5 separate regions of the Homo sapiens genome follow, and regions 1, 2, 4 and 5 are each linked to region 3. Evidence: fine-mapped expression QTL. A gene starts in region 3. Each other region holds a variant in brackets. All regions are shown on one strand. Distances are from middle to middle. Region 1 holds the start of LINC01300 (long intergenic non-protein coding RNA 1300). Region 2 overlaps SLC45A4 (solute carrier family 45 member 4). Region 3 holds the start of SLC45A4 (solute carrier family 45 member 4). Region 4 overlaps SLC45A4 (solute carrier family 45 member 4). Region 5 overlaps LOC105375784 (a long non-coding RNA gene).

The links.
Region 1: its variant is fine-mapped to the expression of SLC45A4 in monocytes (Quach 2016, PIP 0.95).
Region 2: its variant is fine-mapped to the expression of SLC45A4 in whole blood (TOPMed, PIP above 0.99). The same link has a PIP of 0.9 or more in monocytes after R848.
Region 4: its variant is fine-mapped to the expression of SLC45A4 in whole blood (TOPMed, PIP above 0.99).
Region 5: its variant is fine-mapped to the expression of SLC45A4 in sigmoid colon (GTEx, PIP 0.98).

The regions. Positions count from the first base shown.
Region 1 is chr8:141,335,974-141,341,073 of GRCh38, reverse strand. LINC01300 (long intergenic non-protein coding RNA 1300) reads right to left here and starts at 525. Exons shown (of 4, transcript NR_024441.1): 1 at 402-525. RefSeq lists a silencer at 2,050-2,344 and an enhancer at 5,063-5,100. The variant A/T (reference allele first, on the strand shown) is at 3,019.
Region 2 is chr8:141,224,387-141,229,486 of GRCh38, reverse strand. The region is part of intron 2 of SLC45A4 (solute carrier family 45 member 4); the gene reads left to right. Among named protein-coding and RNA genes, the nearest start is that of SLC45A4-AS1, 28 kb to the left of the region's middle. RefSeq lists an enhancer at 830-1,683. The variant A/G (reference allele first, on the strand shown) is at 2,188.
Region 3 is chr8:141,305,975-141,311,074 of GRCh38, reverse strand. SLC45A4 (solute carrier family 45 member 4) reads left to right here and starts at 2,787. Exons shown (of 9, transcript NM_001286646.2): 1 at 2,787-2,979. RefSeq lists silencers at 2,552-2,791, 2,812-2,911.
Region 4 is chr8:141,240,700-141,245,799 of GRCh38, reverse strand. The region is part of intron 2 of SLC45A4 (solute carrier family 45 member 4); the gene reads left to right. Among named protein-coding and RNA genes, the nearest start is that of SLC45A4-AS1, 11 kb to the left of the region's middle. RefSeq lists enhancers at 350-519, 4,435-5,100. The variant A/G (reference allele first, on the strand shown) is at 2,100.
Region 5 is chr8:141,059,248-141,064,347 of GRCh38, reverse strand. It overlaps LOC105375784 (a long non-coding RNA gene), which reads right to left. Exons shown (of 3, transcript XR_002956733.2): 3 at 1,855-4,370. Among named protein-coding and RNA genes, the nearest start is that of PTK2, 61 kb to the right of the region's middle. RefSeq lists an enhancer at 3,951-4,648. The variant C/T (reference allele first, on the strand shown) is at 2,428.

The sequences.
Region 1 (5,100 bases), 30 kb before region 3:
CCTGCTTGAGCTGTTGGGGGCCCCCTGCCTTGGCACTGTTCCTAATAGAGCCTGGGATCTTGTTTGAGCCCTACAAGGAAGCAAGGACCCCAGGCATCATCTTACAAACAAGGAAACTGAGGCTTGGGGAGGGGAGGAGCTTGTGGGTCCAAGTTCCCTGCCGGCTGTAACACTGTAGGAGTCAGAACCTGGCCAATGCCTGGAGGGGGCTTCCTTGGCCAGGGCTGAGCCTCAGGCTGCCCCCACCCCATCTCTCCCCCACTCCCATTGCATATGGAAACCAGAAAATCAATCCTAAGACCCCCAGCCAAACGAACGGACCCTCGTCTTGGCTAAGGACATTCCAAAGTGAACCTGAAAAGCGAGTTCAGGCCACGGTGGGAAGCGGGAGACGGACATACCTTGTTATCCCCCCTCCCTTTTGGAATGACTGGCAGAACAGTCTTTCAGTCTGATAATAAACATCTCCCATCCATTCTCTCTGCAGTCTGCTGCCTGGAGGCTTCATCTGCATGATGAAACCTCGGTCTGCACAACCCATTATCTTAACCCAGACATTCCTATCTACCGACAATAACTCTTTCAACCAACGGCCAATCAGAAAATCTTCGAATCCACCTATGACCTGGAAGCATCCCCGCTTCCGGTGGTTCCGCCTTTCTAGGCGTAACCAATGTACAGCTTATGTGTATTGATTGATGCCTTGTGTCCCCCTAAAATGTATGAAACCTAGCTGTGGCCCGACCACCTTGAACACATGGTCTGAGGGTCTCCTGGGGCTGTCATGGGCCCCCGGCCATTCATCTTTGGCTCAGAATAAATGTCTCAAACACTTTACGGAGTTTGACTTTTTGTTGATATATACGTCCAGGGAGGCCTCACTGCAGACTTACTGGGCCGCAGGGGCCTCAAGGACCAATATGGCCCCTCCTCTTGGAACAGACGGCCCCAAGCCAAGAGGACTTGGGGACCCTGTGGCCCAAACGGGTCATTTCACAGAATGGGAGACGGAGGCCCACACGGGGAATGGAGGAGAGCGAGGTGGAGCAAGGCCCTTCCCAGCCCTGGGCGGCCCCTTGACCCTTTTGTTCCCCCTCGCTGCCAGGCCTGTGACTGGGTGGGCCTGGGTCTGCAGCCCTACGGGGACTGGAGGGACAGCTGAGTGAGCAGAAGGTGCCTTGTGGCCAAGGCACAGAGGCGTCAGGGCCCAGCTGTGTTCAGCAGGAAGAAGGTCTGTGAGTGGAATATGGGGGTGCAGCGGGGTGGGGGGCGGCCAGCCTGCAGCTCAGATGCTGCGCTGGGGCTCCGGCCGTGACCACGCTCAGCCTCTGTGTCCTCCCCGGTAAAGTGGGAGGAATCGCCTTCCACACAGGACTCGGGGCTGGGTGAGGGCTGGGCGGCCACCACCACCTGCCCTGGGGCAGCAGGAGCTGCAAAGCCAGGCTCAAGGCCTGGGGGAAGGAACCCGGCGCTGGGTGCCCAGAGTCCAGATGAGATGGGTTTGGGGGGAAGGAACCCGGTGCTGGGCGCCCAGGGCCCACATGAGTTGGGTGTCGGAGGAAGGCAACCCCACCCAGGCCACCCCAGCCAGGGCTCAGGGACTTTGCCCACATGTTACCCTCTGGATCTTTCGGAACATTCTGCTGAATAAAAACTGGATTTAAAAAAGAGGCCAGGCACGGTGGCTCATGCTTGTAATCCTAGCACTTTGGGAGGCCAAGGTGGGCAGATCACTTGAGGTCAGGAGTTCAAGACCAGCCTGACCAACATGGTGAAAACATGTCTTTACTAAAAATACAAAAATTAGCCAGGTGTGGTGGCACATGCGTGTAATTCCAGCTACTTGGGAGGCTGAGGCAGGAGAATCACTTGAAATCTGGAGGCAGAGGTTGCAGTGAGCTGAGATTGCGCCACTGCACTCCAGCTTGGGCAACAGAGTGAGACTCCATCTCAAAAAATAATGAAAAATAAAAAAGGTATATTCTATGAAACTCTATTTGGGGTGTGATCTCGTTTTTAACAAGTATTTAAGAAGTAGGCTGGTGCAAGGTGTTTCTAAATGCTTCACAGTGTTATCTCTAGCAAACATTTCATCTGACGGTCTTTTGAATGAGGAGCTCCTGAACGTTCGGCAGAGGAGGTGGAACAGAAGAGAGAGGGCAGGCAGGGGCGTCTCCCTTCTTATCAAGGTATGACTAAGGGCACAACCTTATTTCCAAACAGAACAGTGGACAAACCGGGAAAGGGAGAGTCTGGAGAGATGAAGCGATACTATTAGTGCGGCTGACATGTCAATCACGGGGCTGGCACCGTTCACAGCTCTGAGGCTGCTGGATCTTTCCTGCCTCTCACCTCTGCTCTGCTCAGGCAAGCCTAGCCAGGCAGGGACTGGAGTTGGGGGCTGTTTTCCAGTTCACAGAGGAAGTCACAAGGCCCTAGGACACTCAGGGCCTTGGGAAAGCCAGCCAAGGACCAGAACAGATGTTTCGGCCTGACAGCACCTACTCTTGGGTTAAGCATCACCCTCGGTTTGAAAAATAGAAGTGAGGCCAGGAGTGGCTCACACCTGTAACCCCAGCACTTTGGGAAGCCAAGGCGGGCAGATCACTTGAGGTCAGGAGTTCAAGACCAGCCTGGCCAACATAGTGAAACCCTGTCTCTACTAAAAATACAAAAATTAGCCGGGCGTGGTGGCCGGCACCTGTAATCCCAGCTATTTGGGAGGCTGAGGCTGGAGAATTGCTTGAACCCAGGAGGCAGAGGTTGCAGTGGGCTGAGATTGCACCACTGCACTCCAGCCTGGGCGACAGAGCAAGACCCTGTCTCGATAAATAAATAAATAAAATTTTAAAAATAATAAAAAAAAAACAGGCTAGGCACGGTGGCTCATGCCTGTAATTCTAGCACTTTGGGAGGCCACGGTGGGCGGATCACTCAAGGTCAGGAGTTCAAAACCAGCCTGGCCAACATGGTGAAACCCTGTCTCTACTAAAAATACAAAAAATTAGCTGGGCGTGG[A/T]GGCGCACACCTGTAGTCCCAGCTACTCAGGAGGCTGAGGCAGGAGAATCTCTTGAACCTGGGAGGTGGAGGTTGCAGTGAGCTGAGATCGTGCCACTGCACTCCAGCCTGGGTGACACAGCGAGATCCCATCTTAAATAATAATAACAATAATAAAACAGAAGTGGGTAGGGCACGGTGGTTGACACATGTAATCCCAGTGCTTTGGGAGGCTGAGGCAGGCAGATCACTTGAGCCCAGGAGTTCAAGATTAGCCTGAGAAACATAGTGAGACCCCGTCTCTACAAAAATAAGTAAATAAATTAGCCAGGCATAGTGGTGCCCACCCATAGACCCAGCTACTCAGGGGCCTGAGGCGGGACGATTGCTTGAGCCTAGGAGTTCAAGACCAACCTGGGCAACATAGGAGACTTTGTCTCTATAAATAATTTTTAAAAATTAGCCAGGCCTAGTGGTACACCCCTGTAGTACCAGCTACTCAGCAGGCTGAGGCGGGAGGATTGCTGGAGCCCAGGATGTTGAGGCAGCAGTGAGCTGTGATCATGCCACCGCACTCCAGCCTGGGCAACAGAGCAAGATCCTGTCTCTAAAAAGAAAAAAAAAGAAGTATTCGTAGGAGGATCACAGAAGACCCCCAACACCCTGGTGATGTCACCCTGAAGTCCAGGAGAGCCGAGGCTGAAGTCTCGAGGGGAAGGACCCGGCCTCGATTGGGCCGCAGCCTCGGCGCTGGAGCCAGGTCTAAGACACTGCTCTCTATCACGCTGGGTTCCCCCTGCGGTGCTGCACGGCGTGGGCTGGGCACCCCCTCTGGGATCAGTTTGCTCCCTGCAGGATGACAGGGTGGGCAGGGACATGTATGGGACTCACCACCCACAGCAGGGACCCAGGTCCTTCCCCGTCTGGCTGGGGTCAGCCTGGGAGGGGCAGGGTTCCGCCTGCCTGATGCATTGCCTCCTGCTCACCACCCCCAAGCAACACTCCGGTCACTTCTTACTTCCATACCAGGTCTTCGCACTTGCTATTCCCTCTGTTTCCCATGCCTTTCCTCAGGAGAGCTCCTATGCCTCCCACACACAGCTGGGCCGCCGTGTGGTCTGGGAAGCTGTCTCTGAGCAGAGGCAGCCACTGTGCCCCAAGCCCCGTGGGCCCTCGTCCTCACCTCCATTCAGCTGTGGCCCTGCTGGATCGTCACCATCCAAGTTGATACTCTCTCCCAGGGCCCCGTGAGCCCCATCAGTGCAGGGAGTCCATCTGCTCTCTCCCGACTCCCTGCTGCACCTGGTCCAGGGTTCCCCACAGAGGAGCTACTCCATGAAGGCTCAGGGACCAAATGTGGAAGTCCCAAACATGGGCTCCAGGGAGGAGGAGAGACAGGCAGGGCCATGCGGTCAGATAGGGACAGTGAGGAAACCATTGACACGTTGATCTGTGTCACCCACATAGGAACCCTGGGGAGATGCCAGTCTCTTCTTCCCAAGCTATGGGAAGGGGAAACTGAGGCTCAGAGACACAAGAAACCTGCTGGGTTTCAGGAGTCTAACCCACCAAGGACCCCAGGATGCCTCACACCCTCCCCAACCCCACTTCCCAGCACCAGGTTGAAGACAAACTGGACTCACACCCTGGTCAAGGACTACCACCACCCGCCGCTGCCCACGTGCAGCCTCCGGTCTTCCTGCCTGGAAGCGGGCATGAGTGTGCATGTGTGCATGTCCACACAGGCATCTGCTGCACACCCACCGGCTTCCTGATCCCCTAAACAATCTGTCAGCTGTGACTGCCCATGTCCTGGCCCAGGTGCGTGCAGAAGGGTGGGATTAGGGAGGGAGCCCCGAGGGTCTGCAGGGGAGGCCGGGTCCGGGTCAGGGACACAACCAACGTGGCTGATGGGGTGGAGACGGCTCAGGCTTTGAGCAAGGACTTGGAATGTAATCCTGTGTCCAGATCCTTGTCAACAGGAGGCTTAAAACATGGGTGAAAGGATGGCACTCAAGAAAGACTGACCTGCCCCTCCAGGGCCCAGGTAGGGCACACCTGTGGGGTCAAAGCTCTGGCTTCTGGTCCAGCAAGATCCAGCTG
Region 2 (5,100 bases), 82 kb after region 3:
AGGCACTGGCTGGACCCTCCCCAGTGGCCGTGGCTGAGGTTCTGAGCGGGATGTGAGCCTGGTGTTTTCTAGAAGAGGAGGTAGGGTGGGGTGGGCGGTTGGAGTCTGGTGTGGAGAGGGAAGCGGTCTGGCATGGGCTGTCCAGCCAGTGGGTAGGGTAGGGTGTTGTGGGCTGCAGGCATGAGGCAGGACTTTGAGGGCCCTGGACGCCACGGCAGGTGCAAGCAGTGGGTTTTAGGTGGTCACTCTGACTGCAGGTGGCGGGTGGGTTACGGAGGATGAGGGAGGAACCAGGGGTCAGTTGGAAGCCTGCTATGCTCACAAAACTCTGCTCCTGAGAGTGCAGCTCTTTTAAGGGCACTAAGCAGTTATTGAATGTCAGGTAAGGGGGGAAGGTAAAGTACTTCAGGCAGAGGCAGCAGTGTCTTCGAAGGTCCCATGGGCGGGAGGAGCCGATGGGGAGACAAGTGTACGGCGGGGATGTGCAGCCGAGGAGGCAGCGGCACCTGGCGCCAGGTGGGCTGTGGGGCGGGTGGTGTTGGTGCCCGGGGTCCTGACAGCATGAGTGGTGGGTGACAGAGCCTTTTCTCTGAGTTAGGGGACCCCAGAGGAGGTCTAGATATGAAGCGGCACATCCAGAGATGGGTTTGGGATGTATTGAATTAGAACTTTCCTTTCTCTCTTCCAAGGCCTGGGGTAGCTGTTGGCTTCTGGAACTGATTGACCCCTGAGCTTAGCCAGGGCTGCAGGACATGGCCTGACCTGCATTTTGTGCTCTTCAGGAAGCTTCCGGAATCTCAGGCCAAAGGCCATACGGTTGTTTATACAGCTACGATAACATCACTGTGTCATCACAAAGATGTTTGCTTGTTGCAACATCTGTTTTAAAGAGCCGAGAATGGGTGGCTGTGCTGATAGGGCAGAGAGGAGCCCATGCTCCAGCTGCGGGGAGTGCCTGCCCGAGGAGCTGGCCAGTGAAGACAGGTGCCTGCCAGTGAAGACAGGTGCCCACAAGCTGGACACAGGGTCGGCCCTGAGACAGGACAGCAGCTGCGGAATGTTCCCGCTGGCTTTCTGGAGCGCCAGCGTCCTGCTTGGGTCTGGCCAGGGGCCTCTAGCCAGGCTGTTGAGGCGCCCCTCCTTGTTGAAGAGGAGAAACAGTGGCCCCCTGGGAGTTGCTGGGAGGTGCCTGGCACAGGGCGGCAGGGACAGCATCATCTATGGGGAAAGCAAGCCCAGCCTCAGGGCTGTCCCGTCCAAAGACCCTTGTGAGTCCACTGAGGTCAAATCAATGGAGTCTTCAGAAAGGTTAGAATGCTCAATTTCAAAACTGCTGCCTCCACCCAGATCACTCCATCTAAAGCTTGCGGTGAGCCACAGCCTCTCGGGCACCCAACAGCTCCACTCCACACAGCTCTCCCCTCAGGGCTCTGCCTCACCCTCTAGAAATGAGGCGCTGGGTCCTGGGTTTCAAGTTTCAATTCCTCCTCTCCTACAAAAGGCCAAAGCCCGGGAACTTATTGTCCCCGGCCCTTCAATGCCAGATTCTCCCACAGGGTTCAGAGAGCCATGGCTGGCACTCCGGGAGGGGCTGGGTGGGCCGTGGGTGTTGGAGTGGGAAGGCGGCACATGTGAGAACACTCAAGGTGCTGCTGTCCCCTCCACCCTAAATGACGGGCCGGTTTGTAGTAGGCTCAGGAAAAGCACCTGAGCTTGCCCCTCTTTTCACCCCCTCCCTATCTTCCTGTGGCTGTAGTGGTTCTGGAACATTCCTTGCAGCTGTGGGGCCCTCGCCAGCACAGAGCCTCAGTGCCGGGGGCCCAGTGCCAGTGGCCCTTCCCCTCTTGCAAGCAGGTGGCCCGAGCCCTGGGGGCCCGGCTCCCCCGGCCCAGTGTCTTTCCTGTCTGGGGCCCTTCAGAAGTGGCTCCTGACAGTGTTCCTTGACTTAAATTCATCAGAGGTCACTCAAGGATGCTAAGCCTTTCCCACGCAGGACTTGTGCTCACGAGTTTCGCCGCACTGTGGCATTTGGTCCCAGCACACAAGCGTATCTTGATGTGGAAGCTTTGTCCATTGAAAGAAAGAATGCAAGTTCCTGTTCCCATTGCGGATCTTTTGTTAAACATTTATAGGCGACTTTCCCACTCCTTGCCCTCCCCACCCCCCGCCAGTCTCCCCTCACCAGAA[A/G]GTCCCAGTTTATCACACACGGCACTGTGAACAGGAGCCGCCACACGTGACCCGAGCGTCGCCCGTGACCTCACACAGCCTGCGGCCGAGCGGTGACACAGTATTTCCTGTGAACGGAGAGCCTTCCTGGTCTCACCATTGTTGTTCAACTTTTCCCTGGGAAAAAACAAAACTTATTTACTGGGCCCAGCGTTGTGTGTGTTTGGAGCCGGGCTGGGAAATGCCCCGTCAGAGCCGTCCCAGTGGCAGCCCCCTGCTACGAACGGGGGAGACCGAGTTCTCACCGCCGGGGACGTCAGAGCAGGACCTGCGAGGCAGGGAGGCGGCAGCTGTGCCCTCCCGGGGCCGTTTTGAAGATACGATGAAAAGTGTTTATTTTTCTTGCCAAGGTGCTTAAAACAAAGGAAGCTGTCCCCTGATACTCGGGACCACTCACTCCTGCAGCCTGGCTCTGTGGGCACCCGGCAGGCGTCCCGTGGCCGTGCTGCCTCAGGTGCTGGGGACTGAGATGGAGTCGCTGACTTCCTATTGGGCTTGAGCTTTCCTTGCAGCCTGGAATTCACTTTTAGGCTGACTGGGGAGGGAAGAATGAGACAGACACTGCTGGCCCTGTCCCGGCCCCCCGGCCTGTCTCTCCATCCTCGGCCTGACCTGCTCATGGTGTCTGCGGCCTTCACCCCGTGACCACTCCCGAGGGAAGCCGCCTGCGACCCTGGCAACCCTCCTGCCTTGTGTACCCCAGTCGTGGGTCTCCTGCTCTGGCCAGATTCTGGATTCCTCCAGAGGGGACAGGCCAGCACCTGGGGTGGCGCCAGGCCCACCGAGAGGTTCAGCAGCGACAGCTGTCGTTGGGTGTAGATGCTTGGTGCCAAGGCGTGCCGCCCCTTCCAGGGAAAGCACGTGGGGCAGGGCACCTTGCGCACCAGCATTGAGAGCACCCCAGCAGGAGGCCCGTGTGCTGCTCGCCGCACTGAGCATCGTGGGTGGGAGGCACGGGCGGTGGTGCCACGGTGGGCTCTGTGTCTCCACTGATCCCCTTTGAATGTGCCAAGTGCCAGTCCCGACGTGTAGACTTGGGGTTGTCCAAGCAGAGGGGAAAGATGGAGAAAGGAAGCCCCACAGTGTCTTGTTGAGGATTGGAACGCGGGCCCTGACACCGCAGGGTGTAAAGTTAAAATCACGATGTCAGGCCATGAGGAACGGTCCAAGGCTTCCAGGCACAGTCCATGGCAGCTGTGTGGTTTGAGGGGCTGACCTGGGTCCCAAGGCAGGCCGGCCAGATGTAGGGGTGAGTTAGTGGGAGTCAGAGAGAGGCGTGGGGAGGCCTGACCTAGGGCTGGGGGCTGGCAACACAGGAGAGACCAGGGCCGGGGCCGCACGGAGGCTGGGGCAGCTGTGGGGACTATAGGAGTCAGAGCTGAGGGCAAAGGGGAGGAGGCTGGCGGGTGGAGGTGCCCAGGGAGGCCTGGGGCCGGGTCCCACCAGGCTCTGGAGGGGCCTGTGGGACAAGGGTGGAGAAGCAGCCTCCACAGGAGGACTGGGAGCCGAGGGCCTGGCCCGGGCCTAGCGGTTCCCCCCAGTGCCCTGTGCCTTCTTGTCTCCCGGGGTGAGAAGCCTCCCTTCTGGGCTGGGGACGGCTGCCTGGTCCAGGGCTGCTCCGGACCCAGCGTCTTCCCGGCTCCCAGGGTTGGCAGCACAAAGGCGGGACAGGCCTGTGCACGCAGCGCCTCCTCTAGATTAGGTGGGCTGGGTCGCACCTGCAGGTCCTCCCCACCCTCCTGACACCCAGCCAGCGCTTGGGGCAGAAACCAAGTAGGAAGGTGATGGCTGGAAGAGGGAATGCCTGGGTTTCTCTCTTGGCACCGCTTTTAACCCGACTGTTGGCCTTCGTTGACGCAACACAGGGTGGCTGAAACTTGGATAGTTAACTCCACTCTGCCTTTCTTGAAGAACCCACAGGCAGAGTTCGGGTGGAGTTAGGAGATGGGGCGGGAATTTCAAACCCTCGTGTTAAATAAAACCATGAACACTCTCAGAGGAATATAGCAGTGTAGTCTATGACACATCATTCACAGTGTCTAGGATACAACTCAATGTTATTAGACATGTTTTTTTTAAAAAAGAAAAGGCGACCGTTGCTGGAGGACGGCAGCAGTGGAGGCTGACCCACGATGATGTCGCGTGTCGCACTGGTCAGATGGGTGTGCGTAACTACACCCAAGGACAGAAAACATGCTCAGAATGGAGAGCACAGAGTCCCAGCAGAGAAATGGAAGCTACAGAAATAGAGCCAAGTGGAAATTCTAGGTCTGAAAACTACAGTATCAAAATAGAAAATGAACCAGATGGGGTTAACAGCAGATTGGAGGGGACAGAAGAGTCAGTGGACTTCATGATATGTCAACAGAAATGATCATATAGAGATTAAAGCCTGAAAAAAGAAATGAAGAATGCTCCAGGAAACAGAGGGATGATCTCAAAGGTCTGATGTCTGTCATGGGAACCCCAGAAGAAAGGAAATAGAGAATGGGATGTAAAACCTTTGCAGGGGCAGGTGCAGTGGCTCACGCCTGTCATCACAGCACTTCGGGAGGCCGAGGTGGGCAGATTGCTTGAGCTCAGAAGTTTGAGACCAGCCTGGCCAGCATGGCAAAACCCTGTCTCTACAAAAAATACAAAAATTAGCCGCCGGGTGTGGTGGTGCACACCTGTACCCAGCTACTCGAGAGGCTGAGGCACAAGAATTGCTTGAATCCAGGAGGCCGGAGGTTGCAGTGAGCTGAGATTGTGCCACGGCATTCCAGCCTGGGTGACAGCAAGACCCTGTCTCCAAAAACAAAACAAAACCAAAAAACTCACAGCTTTGAAGTAAGACGTAACGGGATGAACGGGATGTTTTCTAAACTTGGTGAA
Region 3 (5,100 bases):
CTAGGCTGGTGCCTATACTTCTATACTTGCATTCAGTTACTCTTTTAGAGGCTTTTTTTTTTTTTTTTTTGAGATGGGGTCTCATTCTATTGCCCAGGCTGGAGCGCAGTGGTGCGATCTCAGCTTACTGCAACCTCTGCCTGCCAGGTTCAAGTGATTCTCCCGCCTCAGCCTCCCAAGTAGCTGGGCCCACAGATGCACACTGCCCCAATCAGCTAATTTTTGTATTTTTAATAGAGATGGGGTTTCGCCATGTTACCCAGGCTGGTCTAGAACTCTTGAGCTCAAGCAATCCACCCACCTCGGCCTCCCAAGGTGCTGGGATTACAGGCATGAGCCACCACCATGCCCAGCCCCAAGAAATACTTATGGAGCACCTACTACAAGGCTGATCCTAGACTGGGCTCCATGGCTACCATGGCTGGTACATACCCCACAATGCACTCCTTAAGAAGAGAGATGGGATCATGTTCCCAGCTCCAGTACTAGGACCCAGCAAAGCGTGTGGCACATAGTAGGCACACACTCAGTAGTTGGTTACTGCATGAATGACAATGAAGACAATTCAATCAATACCAGCAATTTGTGAATAAACAAAGTCTTTACCTGTTCTGTCCTCTTGATTGTATTGTCATTTTAAAAAGCATCATTTTGCTATTTTGTTTAAGCTTCAGGACAACTTGTGAACTAGGTACTATTAGAATGCTCACTTATAGAAGAGGACTCAGGGAGGTTAAGTAGGCGCCCAGGCTCACACAGTTGGCTCACAGCACACCTGGAATTGCCGCTGCCTCTATCCTTTGGCCATTGAAAGAAAAATCACCAGGGAAGCAGATGTACAGTTTGAGCACTCATGATGTGTCTGATGCTGCTTTGGACTGTCTACAGACCATTGATGTACTTACTAACCCTCTGTTGAGATACTGCATACACATGGAAAAACACACACGTCTTTTTTTTTTTTTAATAGAGATAGGGTCTTACCATGTTGCTCAGGCTGGTCTCAAACTCCTGGGCTCAAGCAATCCACCCGCTTTGGCCTTCCAAAGTGTTAGAATTACAGGCGTGAATCACCGTGCCCCACAGGCACATGCATCTTGACTGCACAGCTGGAAAAGTCATCATAAACTGAGCACACTGTAACCAGCACTCAGACCAAGACACAGAACACAGCCAGCCCCCAGACACGTCCTCTGTGCCCTGCTTCCTGGCTCTGGCACCCCTCCCTCCAAGGGTAACCACTATCCTGACTGCTACCCCCATATACACCTTCTACCACTTTATCCACATGGAAACAAATATGGCTTTTTATCCTCTGGCTTCTTTTCCTCAACATCATTTGTGAGAGTCATCCATGTTGTTGTGTGTAGTTGATTATTCACTGTCATTGCTGTCATTCCACTGTGTGAATATATCACAATTTATGTATCCATTTAACGGCTGATGAGCATTTCAGTAGTTTCCAGTTTGGGGCAATTATAAACACTGCTGCTATCAACAGAAACACAATGTTAGGTGTGTATCTAGGAGCAGAATTGCTGGGTAATCAAGGCCTTTCAAAAAGATTTTGAAAGTTGTACCACTTTGCATGTCCACCAACAGTGTCTGGCAGTTCCAGTTGCTCCATTTCCTTGTCAACACTTGATATGGTCAGATTTTCCCATTTCCGATGCTCTTGGAGGCTCTGCTCTGCACTTCACTTCTAAATTCCTTTAGCAACAGGTGAGATGGATCTTACGATTTCTATTTTACAGATGAGGACGCCAAGGTTCTGAGAAATGAAGTAATTCCTCCAAAGCAACTTAAACCCTGGCAAGGGTGCAGGGCTGCGACGTTAACAGGGTTGGCCTCAGCCCATCACATCTGTCTGTTAAAGCCGCCTCCCCAGACCTTGTCTTGATGGGGTTTCCCAGCAGTCCTGCCCTAGGGATTGTGGCCCTTCTACACGTGGGGAGAGACGGATCAGTGTCCCTGGCCAGGGCCAAGCCTGAGAGGGAGGCCCAGCCTCCAGGAAGCTCCGGGTCGGGTCTTCGTCCTGCCCCGCTCTCCAGGTTGGAGAGGGGACCCGCAGAGCGCGGGGCGTTGGGGGAGTTGGGGACGGGGGCGTGGTCCGGGACCAGGTAGGAGGTCTTCGGAGGGTGGCAGGGAGGGGAAAACAGGAGAGTTTTCTCCTGCAGCGGAGGAGGGGCTGCAGCACCTGGATGGGGCCCATGTCGCCGCGCCACGGGCAGGGGCGGAGGGGGCGGGAGGGTGCTTGCCAAGGGGCTGGGCTGCCGGGGGCCGGGGCCTCGTGGCTAGCCGGACCCCTCTGCGACAGAGTGGCGAGAGGAGCGGGGAGAGAAGGTGGGGACAGGCGGGGGCCACCTCCTGCGGCTGCAGAGAGGGATGGGGTGGATTGCGGGCCAGCGCTTTAGGGGAGAGAGGGCGGACGCTCGGTGCGGAGGGGCCGGGGCCGGGGCCGGGGCCGGGGGCGTAGCGGGAGGAGGGCGGGGGCGGGGCTGGATTATGGCTGGGGGCGGGGCCATGGCGAGACGGGGGCGGGAGCCACGGTGCGCGCGGGGGCGGGGCAGGGGCGCGGCGGGGGCGGGGCGGCCGTTCGGGGGCGGGGTGGGCGGCAGCGGAGGCCAATGAGCGCGCGCGGCGCAGACCCCGCCCCCCGAATCCCCGTCCCGCGGCGGCGGGTGCTGCATAGTCATGAGGCGCAGGGGCCGGCGCTGCGTCAGCGGAAGCGGCGCGGAGCGGCTGTTTCCGACCCGATAAAGCGGCGTTGTCTCCGCGCGCCGGCCGCAGCCTCGCAGCGCTCTCTCCGCGCCCGCGTCGCTGACTGACCGCCCGGCCGGCCGGCCGAGGGAGCAGCCCCCGCCCGGACCCGCAGCCGCCTCCCGACCCCGGTGCGCCCGGGGCTCCGCGCCCCCGTAGCCCCTGCCCGGCCCGGCCCGGCCGCCCCGCCGCCCCCGCGGCCCCGGCCGGAGGAGACAGGTGAGTGGCCTGCCGCCCGCAGCCGCCTGCCCCGCCGCCCCCTGCACCTCGCACCTGGGCGCCGGGCACCTGCAGCCTCCCCACCCCCACCTCCCGCACAGCCTCGGCCTCCAGGTCGGGTCCGCGCCGCAGCCCCAGCCCCGCACCTTCTCCGGGGGAGGGGACGTGCCCCCACCCGGCTTGCGCTGGCTCCTCAGGGCCCCCCAATTCCTTCCCGCCTCCTCTTTCCGGATTGCACCTGCCCTGGTCCCCAGCCCTGCAGCCTCCCTCATTCCCCCCACCCCGGCCCCCACCCCGGGGCGCGCGCCTTCATTTGGACCCGGCCCGCTTTCGCACCCATCAGTCCTCCCCGCCCCCAGTTCCTCGGTTTCTCTACCCAGAGAGGAGCCTGGCGCCTCTAACTCCTGGTCCTGACCCTGTCTTGTCCTTCTAACCCCTGCCTGCTATCTCTAACTTATGAGAATTCAACCAGCGATACACCACTCGCGAAGTGGCCCCCTCTCCCCTCTGTCTGGACCGGTCCTCCCAACCGAACACACTCCCTTCTTCCCCTTCTTCCCCTTCCCTTCTTCCCCTCCTTTCCCTCTGCCCAGTGCACACACGACCCTGGCAGCACTGCTAGCCAGTGTCCCCCGCCTCGGACCCCCAGCCTGCACCGCCAGACTGTGGCTCTGCCCCGGTCTCATCGGCACTGCGCTCCCTTGTGTCCCTTTGAAGATACCTTGATTTCCTGAGACCGACCTTGTCCCTGGAGGAAAGAGGCCAGGGCATCAGTTCATCCGGGCCCAGATTCCCTGCTCTGTAGAAGTCCCCGCACCTTCTGCGTCTCAGCACCCGCTGCCCCTTTCCCCTTTGCGCTTAACCCGTTCCTCCCCCAGGTATCCTGCTCTGGATTGGAGCACTTCCAGCAGCGGCTTTTCCAGCGGAGGCGGATCCACACGGGGCCCAGCCTCCTGGTTAGCTATTCAGAATGATTCTAGAAGGCGGGGGCTAGGGAGGGCTGGGAAGGGCCGCTTGACCTCCTAAGGAGCCTGAGGTGTTTGTGTCTCTCCAGTGCGGGTCACTGATGGAGTGTGGCTTCAGGTTCACAGACCTAGCCACTGACCCCCATCTGATACCTCAGCTGACTCCAGCAAAACAGGGCTTGTCGTTTTTATTACTGTTTTGGGGGCTGTCTTTTCCAGTCTATGACCCGGAGCGAGGAGGGTTTACCAGATGAGTGATTGAACTAATTGTTGTGGGGTCAGATGATTCTTGTGGGCTGGTAGATTCTGAATCGAAGCCCATTTCTGCTGGGGAAAAGCCACTGCATCTGCCCAGCATTACTGAGAGCGCCCTGCGCTTCCATTCCCCAGACGGTCTCATCCTTCCTGTGTCATTGGCAGACAGGTAGAATGTGGTAGGAATCTTATCCTTCTGTTATTTTGTGCTGGCTTTAGGAAAAAATAAGAAAACAAAAAGCTGGAGTATTGGTGTACAGGTTAGGGAGTGTAACACATGGGGATCAGAGCAGGTAACACACACTGTCCTTAAAAGAAATGTATAGTGTCCTCACTTTTCTGCTAGGTTTGAATTATTGTTAAAAGAACGAGCAGAGATTATTTAAATGCTTGGGAGAGGTTTTGCAGAAGCCACTTGATGAGAAGAGGCAGCCCTGCAGGTTCCGGGTGGAGGAGACTCAGGCGCAGTAAAGAACTCATGTGTTTCTAGAGAGAGGCTGGGGAACTAGGTCGTCTTACACATCAAGGATTTCACACCCGTTCAGGCTAATTGTTTTTGTGGCAGTGGCTGTAAAGGAAAGAAGCAAATCGTTTGAAATGTGTTTGAAATACACACTGGGTATTTAAAGGTGTGTTTTTTTGGCCCAGGTGTTCACAGGGCGGGGAGTGGGGAGGCTGCCCAGGGCCACCTCCCGGGCCTCGTGGGGGGAGTGGCCTGCTGCCCTGCCGAGATGCGTGCTGCAGCTTTGGCCCTTGTCGCATCGTGAAAGCAGATCAGAGATTGGACTGGGTGAGCTCCAAGGTGTGTGTCTTGCAGCTTGTAACACCCTCTAACTTTGCTTATTGGAGGGGGGTGGGGGAGGGGCGGAGCAAGCCTGTAAACCGGATTCTGCCTCCTTTC
Region 4 (5,100 bases), 65 kb after region 3:
TGACACTGCCTGCGATGCTGCTGGCAGACAGTGCTGCTGCCCCTGGGAGGCCCCTCCCTTCCCCCTGCCCTTGACTCCTGGGCCTAAGGCTGGTCTGGGGTTGGGACACGCTGAGGGTCTGTGAGTCCCATCTAGCTCTAAGAGTCCAGCCTCCTCTGAGCGGCAGGTTGGGAGTTGTCTGCCATCAGGTGACTTTGGTGTGCTTATGATGCTGAGACCAGATTTTGGGGTCTCCTGGGAGTCCCTGATGCTCTGGGATTCTGCTGGCTGCCCCCCGGGTCAGCCCTGGGGGAGGCAAGCAGTAAAGGGGGCTCTGGGAACCCTGGACAGAAGACGTGATGGAGCGGAAGGCCCATTGTTCGTTGAGTGATGAATTAACACTTTCCTTTATGATGATGATTCAAGTCCTGTTTCTGGTTTCTCTTTCATTTCCATTATTTGCTCAAGTGACAGAGATTTCCTGTCCCTCCTCGAAACGGTGGTGGTGGAGGTAGCAGCAGCCAGCAACCCAATGTTGGCTCCTCTTGGAGAATCCAAAAATCGACCATGTTCCAAGTGTGTAGCCTTACTTATCTCAGCAGATACCAGCATCTCCTTTCTTCTGGAAACGTGTGCAGAGTTGACACATATGATGTGCTTAGAACAGAGCCTGTAATTGTTAGCTGTTATTACTGTCATTATCTTTTTCTCCACTTGGGTTCGTAGTCAGCAGCCTTGGTGGTAACTTGTCGAGGGCCTGCCTCACACTTACTGTGGAAAAGTCACTCAGTGGGGCAGTTTGCACCTCATTCATTGCACCCCACTCTAGCCCAGCCTCCACCTCCACACCGCCCCCCCCCCCCACCCACGTCTTCTTGCTGAATGCGCAGGGATGTCCTCATTTCCAAACTCAGAGGTTTTCTGGGCCCTGGTGCTGGCCCTGTCTCCCATCGCACAGGGCTGAGTGGGCCTGGTTTCCGGCTCTGCCCTCCCTCACTCTTGTCCTGTGTGTGTCCCGTCCTGAGCCCCGTCGGTGTCACACTGGACAACTCCAGGGTCTGTCACATTCAGTATGTTTGAGAGAGCAGTGCTTTCGAAAATGGTGGCATCTTGGATTTGATGAAATACAGCCCATCTCCAGGCCAGACTTGTCTCTGCAGCTGTTTACTGCTCACATCCGCCTGGCCTGGCCCCTCTGCATGCTCCCACTCAACGCACTCCACAGTGTGTGCATCTCTTCAGTGTTCACATGTGCTCCAGGACCCCCTGCAGCCCTGTCTTTCCACCCGTTGTTCCTGAAGGTTGCCCTCTCCCTCCTAGACTGTGCATCCCCTAAGGACAAGGTCCAACTCACCTTTGTTCCCATGCCCAGTGTGGAACAAAGACTTGCAGGACTGAACGAGTGACTTGCTGATGAAGGAGAAATTGACCTGCCTTGGATGCCTCATATGGCCACATGCTCCTGTCCCAGGTCAGAAGCTGATGTATTACATTCCGGAGGAGGCTGGAGGCTACTCTGCCTCCGGCCCAGGCATGGGCTGGACTCCATCTGGAGCTGCTCGCTTGGAGGAGGCACAGGGGAACCTCCTGCAGGCAGGGCAGGGAAGAGGCCTTTCAAACCCAGGTGTTACCAGTCAGCACTGTGCCCGAGACAGAACCTCCTGTGACCTCAGGACAGGCGGAGCGCACCATGAAGAATAGGGGCGCAGTCTCCCAAGTAGCCGAGTTGATTGGGAGGGCAGTTGGGTATACAGCTGACCCTTGAGCAGCTCAGGTTAGGGGTGCCAACTCCCCATACAGTCAAAAATCCATGTGTAGCTTTTGACTCCCCCTAAAACCTGACTACCAACAGCTTCCTGACTGGAAGCCTTACCAATAATATAAGCAGTCAGTTGACACATACCTTCTATATTATATGTATTATATGTTTATAGTAAAGTAACCTGAAGAAAACATAGCTAAGAAAATTATTAAGAAGAGAAATGTATTTCCTATTCATTATGTGGAAGTGGACCGTCATAAAGGCCTTCATCCTCATCTTCATGTTGAGTAGGCTGAGGAGGATCAGGAGCGGGGGTCTTGCTGTCTCGGGTGGCAGAAGCGGAAGAAAATCTGTGTAA[A/G]TGGACGGTACAGTTCAAACCCACGTTGTTCAAGGGTCAACTGTATTTTAATTTATTTTTGAGACAGGGTCTCTGTCGCCCAGGCTGGAGCACAGTGGTGCGATTACGGCTCACTGCAGCCTTGACCTCCTAGGCTCAAGCCATCCTCCTGCCTCAGCCTCCCAAAGTGCTGAGATGATAGGTGTGAGCCACTGCACCCGGCCTGTATTTAAATCTTGAAAGGTTTTTGGCAAATGTCATTTCAGGTTTAGTATGGTTGATGGCAAGTGGTTTTGTTTTTCTGACAGCGGAAGGAACGGCTTTTCCTGTTCTTAAAAAGCCTTTCTAGTTTGTGGGAATGAGAGCGCCATTGACACAGATGCCACTGCGCTTCGTGCTTGCTGCGGCGGGGGGCACCTGGCGGAGCTGCTCTCGGTCACATCCCCACACCGCTGTGTAGGCTTGCTCAAACCTTGCCCTCCCTCCGACATTGGAGGACCTGCTGAGCCACATGCAGTGTCTTGGGACACAGAAGGCAGACATGGGGTCCCCCTGACTTTCTGGTGGCCCGGTGGGGAGGACAGTCATGGAAACAGGTTGCTGCAAGGTGGTGCTCAGAGGGGGACTGACAGTGTGTGGAGGGACCCCGGAGCAGGAGTAATACTCCCAACTCTAGCAGGTTTTTCTGTGGCTCCCAGCAAAGTCTTGGAGGTGGAGCTCTCTGTCACCACCCGGTAGATGGGTCCTCGCCCTGCCGGCTCCCCGCTGCACACGGGCTGGCTTAGGTTTGAAAATCCCGTCGCCTCTTGTGAGAGATTCTATAGCCTCCTACCACATTGCGTGGCCTGGGATACACATTCAGGTCCACATTCAGCTTCCCGCGGTGTTTGTATAAACCCAGGATGGTGGTAGATGGGCTCCCCCAACGTGTGGCCTCCAGTCTCGGGCCTGTGCATTGAGGTGCTCGTGGAAGACAGTATCTGCCGGCTCTCTTCCCAGCAGCCTGTGAGTGAGAGCAGGGAGTGGCAAGCTGCCTAATGGAGGAGTTTGACTCAGCGACTTGTCCAGGGTCAGTGTTGGGCTTGTTATCTGGGGCACTCACCGATGTACCACGGGAGCTGCAGCAAGCTACGAACTGAGCAACTTTGTATTCTCATGAGACCCTCAGGCTCTTTTCCCAGCACTGTCTCGCCCGTTCTTGATAATGGGGGAGTATGGTGTTCTTTCTGATACTGGAGCCCGCGTTTCTAATCACAGCACTTCCCCCACTGGTCTAAACATCCTCTGTGGGAAAACAATGTAGAATTGTCACAGCCAGGAGCCACGTTCATTCCCGCTGTGGAAGTCACTTGGGCCTGGCCTATTAGATACCTAGGTTTAAGAAATTTAAAAATCACGGTGATTCCAGTACTTATTTTATTTCTTAAATTCTATCTGTCACATGAGCTGGATTATTTAGAAGACTCTGGGCCTTTTGATCATCGTCCTGGTCATCACTCTTAGCTGTGGAGGATTTTGTTTTTCTTTCACGGTGAAGTTTGAGTCTGTGGGTTTTTATTTTCAGTTGCCAGTTGTTCCCTGTGATCTCGGCTAAATGTGCGTATAATGATGGCCACACTTGGCGGGATGCGCCTCTCTTTTCATCTCATCTGTGCAGGGAGCTTGAGGATAGGCTCCCAGCCATGAGGAGGGCTGCCTGCTCTTTTCTGTCTGACCTGGAGATTCGGGCTGTCCCGCTGTCCGTGCGAAGGCCACCATACACTCCCTTGTCTTGTCCCTGTATGCACCATGCCTTCACAGCTGCCATCTGTGTCCCGGCAGGAATGGCCCTGCCCCCACTTCTGCCTGGCCAGGATGGGACCTGAATCCTTGATTCCACACAGCCACGTCCTTTTCTGAAGGCGCTCTAGAGCAGAAGCAGTGGTCCCTCCTAGTGCTGGGGGGATTGCTGGGCTCCCAGGCCTGGGAGGAAAGGCTTGGAGGCAGTGGGGGTGCCCAGACCTCTGGCTGGCTGTGAAGGGAGAGACAGCCCACCTGTCCCCAGAGGACCCTGTCAGCACCATCCCCTGAGCAGGTCCTGCCCCACAGAGCCAGCCCACCAGCGGTTCCCAGACCTGACTCAAAAGGGAAGCTGTTTTTCTTTTTTTTTTCTTTGACTGTATTGTAATGGATGCAAAGGCACTGTTTTTAAAATATGAATTCTACTTTCTTAAATGGACAGCGCCTTCACCAAGTTCAGAGTTGAGAAGTTACCATAGGGCAGACAGCGAGGTTTCCGTCCACTCCTGTCCCGCAGCCTCCCATCTCCCTTCCCCGAAGGCAGCAACATCCCCAGCTTCTACACAGTCGCACCATAGGCAAGCGTCCTTGGACCTCGCCACTGTCCCCAGAGCAACTCTTGGAGAACAACAGTGCAGATAAAGCCTCTGGTTCTGTGTCCACCACGTTGCCGGTGAGCCGTCTGTCGCCCTTCTTGGCTGTGCTGCTGCTCCGCCTGCCCGCAGAGCCACTGCTCACCGCAGCCTGGCCGTTTGTGACGCTGTGTGTGTTATGCACTACATTTCCACACCATTTATTGAACGATGCACTTCTGGAGGAGACTTTTAAAAATATGTACATTCTTAGCCCCAGGCTGAGTCCCATAAAGGAGATGAGAGCACACCCACAAACCGGTGCCCATAGGCCCACAGCGCCCCAAAGCGGGGAGAGCGGGAGGGTGTGAAGTGGCCCCGATGTTAGTCAAGACCCAGGAAGATACTCCCCCTCCCATGGATCCGGGCGGCTGCCCCCAGCTGCCCTCACAGGACGGTCTGGAGGGGAGAGGAGGGCTTTGTCTGGGAAGCGTCCTGCAGGCCCCACTCTGCACATCCACATGCGTCTCCACTGCAGCACGGCAGGTGATGCGTGTGGTGTCTCAGAGCTAGGATCCAATCACAGTGTCGGGCAGCCGGTTTCTCATTTTACTTATTTATTTGTGAGACAGGGTCTCGCTCTGTCACCCAGGCTGGAGTGTGGTTGTGCG
Region 5 (5,100 bases), 250 kb after region 3:
CACGTACAGTCATACATAAAGTGCACCTGTTCGTTTACTGAGGAAGTTTCGATGTTTTTCCATACATGTCCAATGCTTACACACACAGTCAGCATATGGTAATGCAGCTCCATGGAGTCAAATTTCTAATGTCCAAGGCAGCAGAGGAGAAGTCCCAGCTCTCAGAAAGAGACCAATTCGGGCCAGGCACAGTGGTTCAGGCCTGTAATCCCAGCACTTTGGGAGGTTGAGGCGGGAGGATCACTTGAGGTCAGGAGTTCAAGACCAGTCTGGTTAACAGGGCAAAATCCCATTTCTACTGAAAAAAAAAATGCAAAAATTAGCTGGGCATGGTGGCGGGCACCTGTAATCCCAGCTACTCAGGAGGCTGAGGCAGGAGAATCGCTTGAACCTGGGAGGCGGAGGTCACAGACAGCCAAGATCATGCCACTGCACTCCAGCCTGGGCAAAAGAGCGAGACTCCGTCTCAAACAAACAAACAAAAAAAGAGACAATTTGCCTTCTTACTTTGTTCTCTCAGGCCCCTGGCCAATTACATGGTGCCCACCAACAGTGAGGGGAGAGCTTCCCCACCTAATCCATCTAGACTCACTCACCAACCGCTTCTGGAAGCACCTTCACAGAAACACCCAAATTTCTTTTTTTTTTTTTCTTTTGAGACAGGGTCTCACTCTGTTGCCCAGACAGTAGCACGATCCCAGCTCACTGCAGCGTTTGACTTCCTGAGCTCAAATGATCCTTCCTCCTCAGCCTTGACCTCCTGGGCTGAAATGATCCTTCCTTCTCAGCCTCCCAAGTAGCTGGGACCACAGGTGTGCACCATTATGCCAGGCTAATTTTTGTATTTTTTAATTTTTTTAATTTTTTTTTTTTAGAGATGGGGTTTCACCATGTTGTCTAGGCTGGTCTCAAACTCCTAAACTCCAGTGATTTGCCCACTTCAGCCTCTCAAAGTGCTGGGATCACAGGCATGTGCCACCGTACCTGGCCCACGCCCAGATTCCTTAATCCAGCCAAGTCAACACCTGAAATAAAGTCCGCAAATCCACCCATTGTCAACTCGGCACCCATACACGTCTCCTTAAACCATGCTATTTCCAAATAAAGACAATAACAAGGCACTAGCTCGCCTAACTTGATGCAGTGAACATGGTGCAACTATCTCGTGTACAACCGAAAACGCACTGATCCTTTCCTCAGAATTTGGCTTTCAAGATTTCAACATTCAAGATTTTAACCTCTTGGAATTGTGATTTGGGGGATTTAGACTTTGGAGATTTTGACCTTTTGGGGTTTCAGTGTTTGGGATCACGGCATCGGGATTGTGTCTTTGGGATTATGATCAGCACCCGTCCCATCTACCTGAGTCCGTCCCTTGGAACCAGCTGGAACTGGACTTGCTGCATCCCCATTTGGGGGAATCATGACAGAGCCCACCAGCCTATCGTTTGTCCTCTCCCACCCATCATCCATCCACCTACTCCTCCATGAAATCTAACCCAGCAACTTTTGTCCTTGGTCATAATCCTTTATTCTTACTGTGTTGCCCAGATGTAAATTGGTTCAAAAAGTACAACTTGCCCACTCACTCCTTTATCCATCTACCACCCACCTGCCCACCTATCCAGCCACCCACCCACTTGTCTGCCTATCTATGTATTCACCATTCCTCCTCTACCTATCTATCCACAATGATCCCCTCCCCCATCTGTCTATCTACCTATTCGCCTATCCATCACCTCCCTACCTGCCTATCCACCCACCTATTCACTTATCCACCCAGCCAGAGATCCATGATCCCTCCACTTCCCCATCCAACTATCCATTATCACCACCCATCCTTCCATCCTCTCTCCATCCAGTCATCCATCCATCCATCCCACCATCCCCCCACCTACCTTGCCAGCAATCTCATTCCTTCTTTCATCAAAAGCCCTGAGCAGCTACTGTGTGGCGAACCTTGTTCCTAGGGGCTAGTGATATATAGAGATAATTAAGAAGCCTACACTCAACAGCAGGGAAGAGGAAACTCACATACATGAGCCATGGCAGTGCAGTGTGGCGACAGCATGAATGAATAGGCAGATGTCCAGGCTGCAGTGGCCGAGAGGAGGCACCAGCCTCTTTTTGTGGGGACACTGGGAATGTTTCTCAGATGATGGCACATTTGGGCTTCAACTGATGCACGGGTGGGCATGCCCCAGGGAGTGAGGGGACAAGCAGGTGCAAAGGTGTACAGGTGTGACGGTTTCCTAGCTGGGAAGATGTTCTCGGCTGGAAGGTGTGAGTGGCAGCTGCAGAGGGATTGGGCTGGGCAGGTAGGCTAAGGTCAGACTGCATAGGACTATGAACTTGGCCATGAGGGTCTAGTCAGCTCCTGGGAAGCAGCCAGACCCACGGAACTACTGAGACTACACCTTACCCCAG[C/T]GGCCCTCCTCCTCCCATCACTGCCCTGCCATGCCTCCCTCTGCCTGTCTGCACTAGCCTCTCACCCAGCCCCTGTCCTGTCCTGGCCTCCACCTCCACTTCTCGACACCCCCAACACCAACCACTTGGAGCCCCTGATAGTCCCCAAAGTCTGCCTCACCTTGTCTTCCCACGTGCTGTCCCACATCCTGGGGCACACGCCTTTGCTCTTGTTCTGAACCAAACTCCTTGACACCCACCGTAAATGACACCTCTGTCCCCTGCCCACCCTCAAGGGCAGTGGGCATTCCCACCCCACCCATCCAACTTGCCTGTATCTTGAACAGACCTCCACTGTCATTTTATCACCAGTGTCTGTCAAAGGGCCTGCGTCTCCTGATGGGTTGGAGACCCTGGAGGCAGGAACAGGGCCTTGTCCACCTCTGCAAACCTGGTGTTTAACTTGGTTCCCAGTATACAGCAGGTGCTCAATAGGTGCATGTTATGTAAAGTGAACAAATGAATGATGGAAAATAACTTTCAGCCTTGTAACCTGGAAGGCCTTATGTTAGCCTTAGCCGATTGTGAAATCTGAGCCCCCGAGGCCGTCAGAGTCCACTTGTGAGTGAGGATCCCTGGGAGGAAAACGACTGGGAACATTAGAGTAAACAGGCAAATTAAAAAACAAAACAAAATATTCTGCATAAAATGGAGCCATCACAGGTCAGGATCACCCTTTGAGCTCCCAAGGTTTGACCCAAGAAAACAATGCTTGGAATTGCGGTCAGGTGGGTTTAAAATCCATTTGCTGTGTATCAGCTGCGTGACCCTGGCAAGCCACTTGGCCTCTCTGAACTCAGTCTCCCCATCCGTCAAGTGGGTCCAAAAAAGAAGCATGAGGCCCTGCTGTGTGGCCCCAGGTATATGCACCAGGCTCACCCTGCCCTGCCCAGCTGGCATGCAGACCGGTGCCAGGGCCCCTTCTCAGCTTCCCTGAAAGTCCACAGGCCTTCCCAGGCCTGCAGTTTAAATGAGGCTCCCTCGGTTTTCTCTCTACGTGGCGCAGAAGGGCACCGTCTATCAAGCACTTCCCTCGTGACAGGCACGGAGCCAACGTTCCCGTTTGATTCTTCTCATCTCCATAAGGGAGGCAATGATGCCATCCACAGGGGACAGGGACACCCGGAGCGGTGAACGTACTGCTGAGGTCGCTCGGTCAGTAACTGGTGGAGACTTAGACACGAGGTGTCTGACTCCAGAGCCCCTGGCGGCCCAGAACCGAGATCTTGGCTGACTTTGGAACCACCGAGAGCTGCACAAACGCCGATGCTTGGGACCCCCAGATTCGATTTCACGGCCCGGGCTGCTGTCTTGACCGGGATTTTCCACACTCCATGGGTGATGGGCAGTGGGAGGGACGCTGCCCTCTGTCGTCTCTGCACACAGACCTCTGGTGGTGGGGGTGAGTCCTGTGCATCGTTCTGTCTGTCTACAAGTTCCACGTCCACTCTGTCCCCTGCTGCCCACCGACTGGGTCAGGGCCCCTTTGTAGGATCCTTGGAACCCTCCACTTTCACTTAAGGCTGGTCCGGCTTCCCCCTGAGGCTGCCCAAGAAGGCCTTAGGATGGGTTGATGGTGTCCCCGCCGTGTCCACTCAGGACCCCAGAATGGGACCTTATTTGGAAATGGAGATTTTGTAGACGTAATGAGTTAAGATGAGGCCATGCTGGATGAGAGTGGGTCCTAATCCAATGGCTGCTGTGCTTCTAAGCAGCAGCAAGGACACAGAAACACGCAGGGAAGGCCACGTGCAGACCGGGGCAGAGACCAGAGGGAGGCAGCCACGAGCCCAGCAGTGCGTGGAGCCACCAGAAGCTGGAAGAGGCAAAGAAGCTTCCCCCAGAGACTTCAGAGCGGGCAGGGCCCTGCCGGCACCTTCATCTCAGATTTCCGGCGTCCAGGGCTGCAAGAGATAAATTCTGTTGTTTTAAGCCGGTTTGTGGCAGTTTCTTAATGACAACCCTGGGAAACAAATATGGGGCTCATCCCCCCATTTCCTGCTCTGGTGGAGTTCTAGAAACAGCAAAAGCCCTGGAGCTTTGGGGGTGCGCTTGTGCAGGGGCGGCTGTGAGGACCTGCCGCCCAGCCCTCCGGCTTCAGGGGCTGCGGGACCCAGCTGCCATCCTGCCTCCCACGGGGGCTCCTGGCTGGAAACTGGGTGCAGTGGGGCCACCGAGGCAGGCCCGGTCCTGAGAGGTGCAGGCCGACTCTGAGGGGCCACTTAGGCTCAAGGACTCCTGATGGCCTTGCCAAACCTTCTGGACTCGGGACCACCCAGGATGCTCCTGCAGCCCCCTCCCTCCCCCTAAAAATGTTTCCGAGGAGCTAACCACTATGGGTCTGGCCCCTTGGGACTCCTCCCAGCCACCGCCCCACCCGTATGGCCATCCCCACAAAACAGATGCCCAAACTGAGGCTCGGAGAGGGGAATCGACTCGCCCAGGGCCACAGAGCTGCCCTCCACCCCCAGCCCGCCCCCACCGTCAGATCAGCAGTTCTCAGAGGCCTGTTGCCATGGTGCTGGAGGGAGGAGCAGATTCCTGAGCTACATCCAAAAATACACACCAGCTCCTTCCTCCCTCCTGACTTCCCTTCTCCCAACCAATGTCAAAGCCTCCTTTTGTGCAGTCTGA